Linked DNA regions of Homo sapiens: region 2 is reported to be linked to region 1. Evidence: microRNA targets listed by miRTarBase, many of them from high-throughput screens and not tested one by one. Region 1 holds a microRNA gene; the other region holds the end of a gene's coding sequence.
Evidence for each region. The annotated mature microRNA hsa-miR-4641 reads UGCCCAUGCCAUACUUUUGCCUCA and lies in region 1 at 787-810, opposite strand. An mRNA with a match to its seed (bases 2 to 7 or 8) in the 3' UTR can be bound and repressed. Matches are read on the target gene's strand: a 7mer-m8 pairs with bases 2 to 8, a 7mer-A1 pairs with bases 2 to 7 and ends in A, and an 8mer does both.

Region 2: miRTarBase lists CDCA8 as a target of hsa-miR-4641. Seed matches in the 3' UTR shown: 7mer-A1 at 2,735-2,741.

What each region holds. Positions count from the first base shown.
Region 1 is chr6:41,596,189-41,599,573 of GRCh38, reverse strand. It overlaps MIR4641 (microRNA 4641), which reads right to left and starts at 851; the gene lies at 786-851. It overlaps FOXP4 (forkhead box P4), which reads right to left. Exons shown (of 17, transcript NM_001012426.2): 15 at 2,332-2,398; 16 at 1,624-1,793; 17 at 1-785. The coding sequence ends at 638. RefSeq lists enhancers at 166-749, 750-1,334.
Region 2 is chr1:37,707,807-37,711,136 of GRCh38, reverse strand. It overlaps CDCA8 (cell division cycle associated 8), which reads right to left. Exons shown (of 10, transcript NM_001256875.2): 10 at 1,418-2,815. The coding sequence ends at 2,771. Among named protein-coding and RNA genes, the nearest start is that of CDCA8, 17 kb to the right of the region's middle.

The DNA of each region.
Region 1 (3,385 bases):
GGGTCTGGAGCCAGGTGGGCCTGCTCACACGGACCCCCACAGGGCACACAGACAGTCCCACCCCAGCAGCAGAGGGGGCTGTTTCTTCTGGGGATGGAGGCACAGTTCCTCCACCCAGGCCAGGGCAGGGTGGGAGCTGGGGTGGAGAGTTCTTTCTTCACAGTACGGAAAAGAAGGCGGAAGGGAGCACGAGTTAGGAAAGTGGGGGCCTCTGGCCAGAAAACACGGCCAGAGCCAGGTGCCAGGGGGCCCTGGGTTTGAGGGGTGGCTAAGCCCCGCCTGCGGGTCTCCATGATGCTGAGGGGCCCTGTGGGGAGAGCTGGTGGGGGAGGAGGGCCCTGCTGCTGCTGGTGGTTGGGGGGAGGCAGTTTCAGATGTGGGGAGGGTCTGAGGAGGGGTCTGAACCCTCCGTGTCCTCTACTGGTCCAAGACCAGGGGTTGTGTCCCTGGGGGTGGGGACCGTCCCTGCCCCTACGTGTTTTTGTCAGGTCACACTGGGAGCTGCTGGCCCGGGCCTCCCCGGTCTGAGTCCTGGACTTGCCTTGAGGCTCGGGAGGGGCTGTGGAGTTGGGGGAGATGGGGCCTGGATTCTGGAAGGGAGGGGTCTCACCCCAGCCCTGCCGGTCACTACAGGCCCTTAGGACAGTTCTTCTCCCGGCAGCTCCTCCTCCAGGTCCCTGTCTTCCGGAGGCCCCGAGGCGCTGGGGTTAGGGGCGCCCAGGGGAGGCCCGGGCTGCCTGTCTTCCTCTGCCTCTGCTGGCTCCTCCTTCACCTGCACCTGGTGGCTGAGGCAAAAGTATGGCATGGGCACCAGGCGGCTGTCCTCTGATGCCCTCTGCCCCCTGCCCCCCAAACTCACCCAGAACTCTGGGGCACAGTGGGGTGCCCACAGCCCCCTCCCCAGGATCCCATCAGACCTGAGGGCTGATCTCCCCTAGGGCTCTCTTCAAAGAAAAGCTGGTCCTGGGGCAGAGACTGCTCTGGGTTGGGGAGGAGAGAAGAGGGGAGCAGAGGGGAGATGAGCGAACGGAGGAAGGAGAAGAAAGATAGAAGAGAGGCCAGGCGAGGTGGCTCACACATGTAATCCCAGCATTTTGGGAGGGCGAGGCCAGTGGATCACCTGAAATCAGGAGGTCGAGACCAGCCTGGCCAGCACGGTGAAACCCCATTCTCTACTAAATACAAAATAATTAGCTGGGCATGGTGGCAGGCACCTATAATTCCAGCTACTTGGGAGGCTGAGGCAGGAGAATCACTTGAACCCAGGAGGCAGAGGTTGCAGTGAGCCAAGATCTTGCCATTACACTCCAGCCTGGGTGACAGAGCGAGACTCCGTCTTAAAAAAAAAAAAAAAAAAGAGAAGAGAGGAGGAGGAAAAATAAGAAAGGGGGAAAATGGGGAGGAGAAGGTGGGAAGGTGGGGAGGTGGGGAGAGGGGATAAGAACAGGCAGGTGGGACAAGGGAGGGCTGAGAGGGCTGAGGGAAGGAAGAGAGAAGCCACTTGTCCTGGGGAGAGGCGTGGTGGGGGTGGGATGGGGAACCCCACCCAGGGTGGGGGATGACGCCTCCTCCCTGGTGGTTGAGGGGTGCTGGGGTGGGTGGGGGTCCGTGCTGTGTGCTCACCTGTACTGGGGCGGGGAGAGGCGAGGAGGGCTGCTGCTGCCGTTGCTGGGCAGCGGCTCCACGGGGGCACCCACGTCATCGTGGCTGAGGGGCAGCAGGCTGCTGGCGGAGCCAGGGTTCAGCATGCCAGGGCTGTTGAGGAGGGGGAAGCTGCTCTCGGCCAGGGCGGCCTGCAGGGGCACAGGGTTGGGCCTCGTCAGTGGCTCCACAGGATGGGGCACACTCAGTCAAGTGCTGTGCCTTCCCCGCCCACTAGAGAGCTGCCTGTGTGTCTGCCTACTGGCCCCACGGGCGGATCTGTCTGGGCAACCCCCAAGCCCCAACTCAGCCTTTGAATGTAGCACCCCTCCCCCATGGCTGGAACTCTGACCCCCCGACCTCCTACCTCCTAGCTTTCCTGGAACCTGGGCCTGGCTTATCCCCTCTCCCAGGGAACAGAGAACCCCCAGACTGACAAACCAGGAAAGGGGATGCTATAGGTATGCCATCCTCCCAGCTGCCTGCCTTGTCTGAACCCAGCCTTGAAAGCAGAGGTGGAGGCTGGCCCCGAGTTGGGGTGGGGCAGAGAGGTGGGGTCTCGGAGAGTTTGGGTCTTCACCCTCCTTCCCTCCTCTGGTGAGTCCTCTGCAGGGGAGGATGGGGGTCTCTTGTATGAGAAAGCAAGGGGGCGGGAGGTAGAGGTGAGTGGGTGGGCTCTGGGCAGGTCACCTGGTAGCTGGCATTAAGTGCTCCATAGCTGAGGCCAGAGATCATGTTCTTCACCAGGGTGGGGCTCCTGGAGGACAGAGAAGGCCATCTTTGGCTCACTCATTCACTTAGCTCTTCATTCGCATCTCTTTACTCTCACTAAGTAACGGCCTGTGCTGGGAATGGGTCCCATTCCCTATTCCGGGAGGCCAGGGCGGATCAGCCGCTGTCTTGGAGCTGTGTGTGTACTTGGTCTGATTCGGTCTTCACGCTCAACTGGCCCTGCAGGAGCAGCCCCTTCACAGGTGGGTGCGATGGGCTTGGTTCAGGGACCTGTCCAGGTCTCGGAGCTGGGAAGTGGGAACTGGCATCCCCCCAGTGTCTGCCTTCACAGCATGCTGCCCCCCCACCCGTTTTCTCTCCGGTCTAGATTTTCCAATGTTTGGCAAGGTCTAATCTATAGTCTCAGTAGTTACACACCTGGTCTGCCCACACTGTCTTGCCATCCTAGATTTTGGGACATGTCAGACATATGCTCAGCCTGTCCCACATGGAGGCTTCTGTATGGAAGCCTCCATACAGAAGGCTTCTCTGCACGGGAAGGTGTTCGGGAGTTGGGACAGGAAAAGCAGTGGCTGGGGGCTGTCCCTCTTCCAGTGATGACACCATCACAGAGCTCTCACAGAGCTTAAGGAAACAGCCAAAGGTCACCAAACTGGTGAGAAGCAGAGGTGCAAGCGCAGCCAGGCCTGGAGACTGGCCCCTAGGCATTCACCAGGGGATGGCTTCCCTCCATTCTCCAGGCTGCACACTGCCTGGGGTGCAAAGGCTCCTGCCTGGTAAGCAGGCATCTTTGAGGGGAGCAGACACCCCACACCTCAGAGACATCCATCTAACTTGCTCTCCTCTCCTTACCCAGGGGCTCTGGCCCAAGGGGCACAGCAAGCAGGTGGCTGGGGTGGGGCTGTTTGAGGTCGGGAGAAGGCCACTGCTGCTACGTGGAAGCCAAAGGGAGGTCCTGACCCTGTCCCAGGCTCCTCAGTTTCTGTTTAAACTGCCAGGTGGAGGCTAGGTG
Region 2 (3,330 bases), not on the chromosome of region 1:
GGAAAGCTGCTACTGAGCTCCAGCTGACTGTTGGCCCGTGCTGTCTGATCTTATTTTCAGAGGCTAGCAATCTTTGTGTAATCGCCCGATATTTAAATGGTTAGCAACTAATTTGGGGAAAAAAAAAAACCCAAACCCAACCCAACGAGTATGAAAGTATGTCTGGGGGCTGGCAGTAAGATTTAGGTTGTCTTTGTCCCAGCCCTGTGACATAGTTCAGCCTGTACTTAAAAATCCTGGGATGGTGGGGACATAAGTTCTACAAAATAAATCAACAAAAATACCAAATGATAAAAAACAAAATTTTTTTTAAAAATCCTGGAATGGGGCCGGGCACAGTGGCTCATACCTGTAATCCCAGCACTTTGGGAGGTGGAGGTGGGTGGATCACCTGAGGTCAGGAGACCAGCCTGGCCAACATGGCGAAACCCTGTCTCCACTAAAAGTACAAAACTTAGCCAGGCGTGGTGGTGTGCACCTGTAATCCCAGCTACTTGGGAGGTTGAGGCAGGAGAATTGCTTGAACCTGAGGTGGAGGTTGCAGTGAGCCGAGATCTCACCACTGCACTCTAGCCTGGGCAATAAGAGCGAAACTCTGTCTCAAAAAATCAATCAATCAATCAATCCTGGGATGGGGAACTCTTTACTTTCCAAGCCAGCCCCTTATATGAAATGAAGAACTGCCATGTCTCAGTCCCAGGTGTTAATTAGGCACCTGCTACATAACATGCATTTCCTACTAGGTGATTTAGGCAGTGGTGCAGATGGAATGAAACAGGATGAACCTGGTTCTGGGTAAAGCAGGTTGGATCCTAAGTGTTTCCTTGGTGTCAGGCTCTTTAGGCCTGATGACATATAGTCTGGGTTGCTTATTTGCACTGAGTAACCATTCTTCCAAATGCTGTCACTACCAGAAGATTCCTAGTCTATAAATTGTCAATACCCAATAACCTGGCTAAGTATGCCCCCAGGTTGTCTTCTTTTAGGCAGAACCCTCTTGCATCATTAGCTCTAGGTTGATCATTTTCAGCCTAGAGAGTTCCGGGAAGGCAGATCTGCCAGGGCCTCAGAAACTTTGGGAAGTGAGACTCATGATCACCGAATTACTCTTGCCCCGCTTTGTTCCTGGCCAAGAAAAGTCTACTATACTGGGAAATTACAGAGACCCTAGGTGTTGTCCTCCCAGACACAAATTTCTAGCTCATGGAATGAAGGTGTTGGGGGCGCTCTGCTGGGGGTTGAAGGTACCGATGCTCTGGATCTTGTAGTAAGCCCCTCTTTCAGATATCAGAATGAATCTGCCCAAAGCAAAGGTTTTCACATCTGAGAAAAGCAGATGTGCAAAGACTCCCACACAATTGCTGTCTCCCTAGTCCACAGAGCACAGCTTGGAGAGGACAGGCAGGATGAACAGTGATTACAAAAGAAAACACAAAACCAGAATTTATTGAAAGTAGGTACCAGCTCTGATTAGAACAATCAGCTCAAAGATACCATTACTCAGAACAATATATACAAAAATCTCAGGGAAAGGAGAATAAAAGAACTTAAAAGAATACAACTTGAACAGGACTGTTTTACTAAAATGGTCTTGTTGCAAAATAATAACAAATACCACAGAGAGCCCTACATGAGAAAGCCATGTGCCTTCAAGCCTGGGGATGAGGACTCTAGTTCTCAAATTCTTAGAACATAGCACATGATTCTCCAGGGCAGAGAGGCTGGCTGGAGAATGAGGACCTCACTGCTGACTCTGCTTAACAAAGTCCATGCCCCAGGCACAGGCACACATGGAATGAGGCCACCAAGCAAGTCACACCCACCCCTGTTCCCATGAACCCCATAAGAGAGAAGTGCTCTCTGAAGTCTACAGACTTGGCAGGGACCACTGGACCATGGATAGCTTAGAGACAGTTATTCTGTGGCCAATGACATAAAACCTCCAGAATCTGGGCCCTACAGTTCCCTTATCCAAATTTCCACTAACTAGGGAGGTAGAAGAGCAAGACATGGAAGTTGTCTCCAAACCAGTATTTGGTCTTCAGTAAACAGGGATAAACATAAAACACTGCTCCACAAGCAGACTTCAGAACTACTGGGCACAGCAGGTGAAAGATCCCTAAGTCCCACTGACCACCTCCCACAGGAGGAGGAGGAGGAGGAAGAGGAGGGCTGGTAGGGGGAGGTGTCATGAGTGCGAGAGGGTAGACGGACATGTTCCCTACTGAGGTCACTGCTGCCAACTGTCCTGCTCTGCTGATCTGTACAGTTCCCCCCACCTTCTGGACCTACCCTCTCATGGCCCAGAGCTCACTTATCTGAGCCTAAACCTCCCGGTCTCAAGCATAGAGAGCAGAAATGCCAGATGCAGAGGTTCTCTGGGTAGCGGTGGTGGAGGCAGTCTTCCTGAGAACACAGGGTTCTTCTTCGCCCCCTCAACTGCAGGCAGGGCAGGGTGAAGAGGATGTTGAGTTGCAGGAGGCAAAAGGCAGCAGCTCAGAGAGCAGGGAGGATTCAGCTGGGAGACTGATGGGAAGCTTCCATGGCATGGCCCCAGCAAGCAGTGACTGGGATCAGCTGGGATGGGAGGGTGAACAGACAGCTCTACCTAACTGGTGTGGGACTAGCACGTCTGAATTCCTGAATTCCCTTAGAGGAACATGGCTCCTTGCTCTGGAACTTCACACTCAAACAATAAGCCTGAAGGGAAGAAGTCTCTTCAGGGTCCCAGAAGTGCCCATTAAAAGTCCATCCTGTCAACTTTGGTGTCTCATTTGTGGGTCCGTATGCTGCTGCAGATTTGGGCGAGACGGTTCTAAAAAGAAAAGGAGAGAGGTCATTGTAGAAGATGTCACTTGGCAGGCTTGCCCCTTGGCCTCCCACAGTCAGCCTGAGCCCCTCCATTCTCTATCTGTATCACACATGAATTCACCTTTCTGAACCTGTTTCTCATCTGAACAAGGGAGTAAAATAACAACTCAAGTGAGACAGTAAAGGTATCATAGATTTGAGAAGAACATTGCAATAGATCTAGCTAGAGGATGACAGTCACAAGATTTGGGTGGCTAGGTGTGTGTGGGATCTCAGCACTGGGCCTATGTTCAGAAAGACAGGTTTAGGAAACCAGCCCCGCCTTGTCCCCTTCCTTGGATGTACCCTTCAGACCCCACAGAAGGATGAGGGTAAGGTTGCCATGTTTACACTAAGTGCTTCATCCACCACCCAAGATGATGGCTGACCAGACCAAGGAGGTTCATCCCTGGCGGAGCCATTACATTCTTCAGTTAAATTAAATTGATAATTTACTTTATTTTTAGAGCTGAGGTCTTT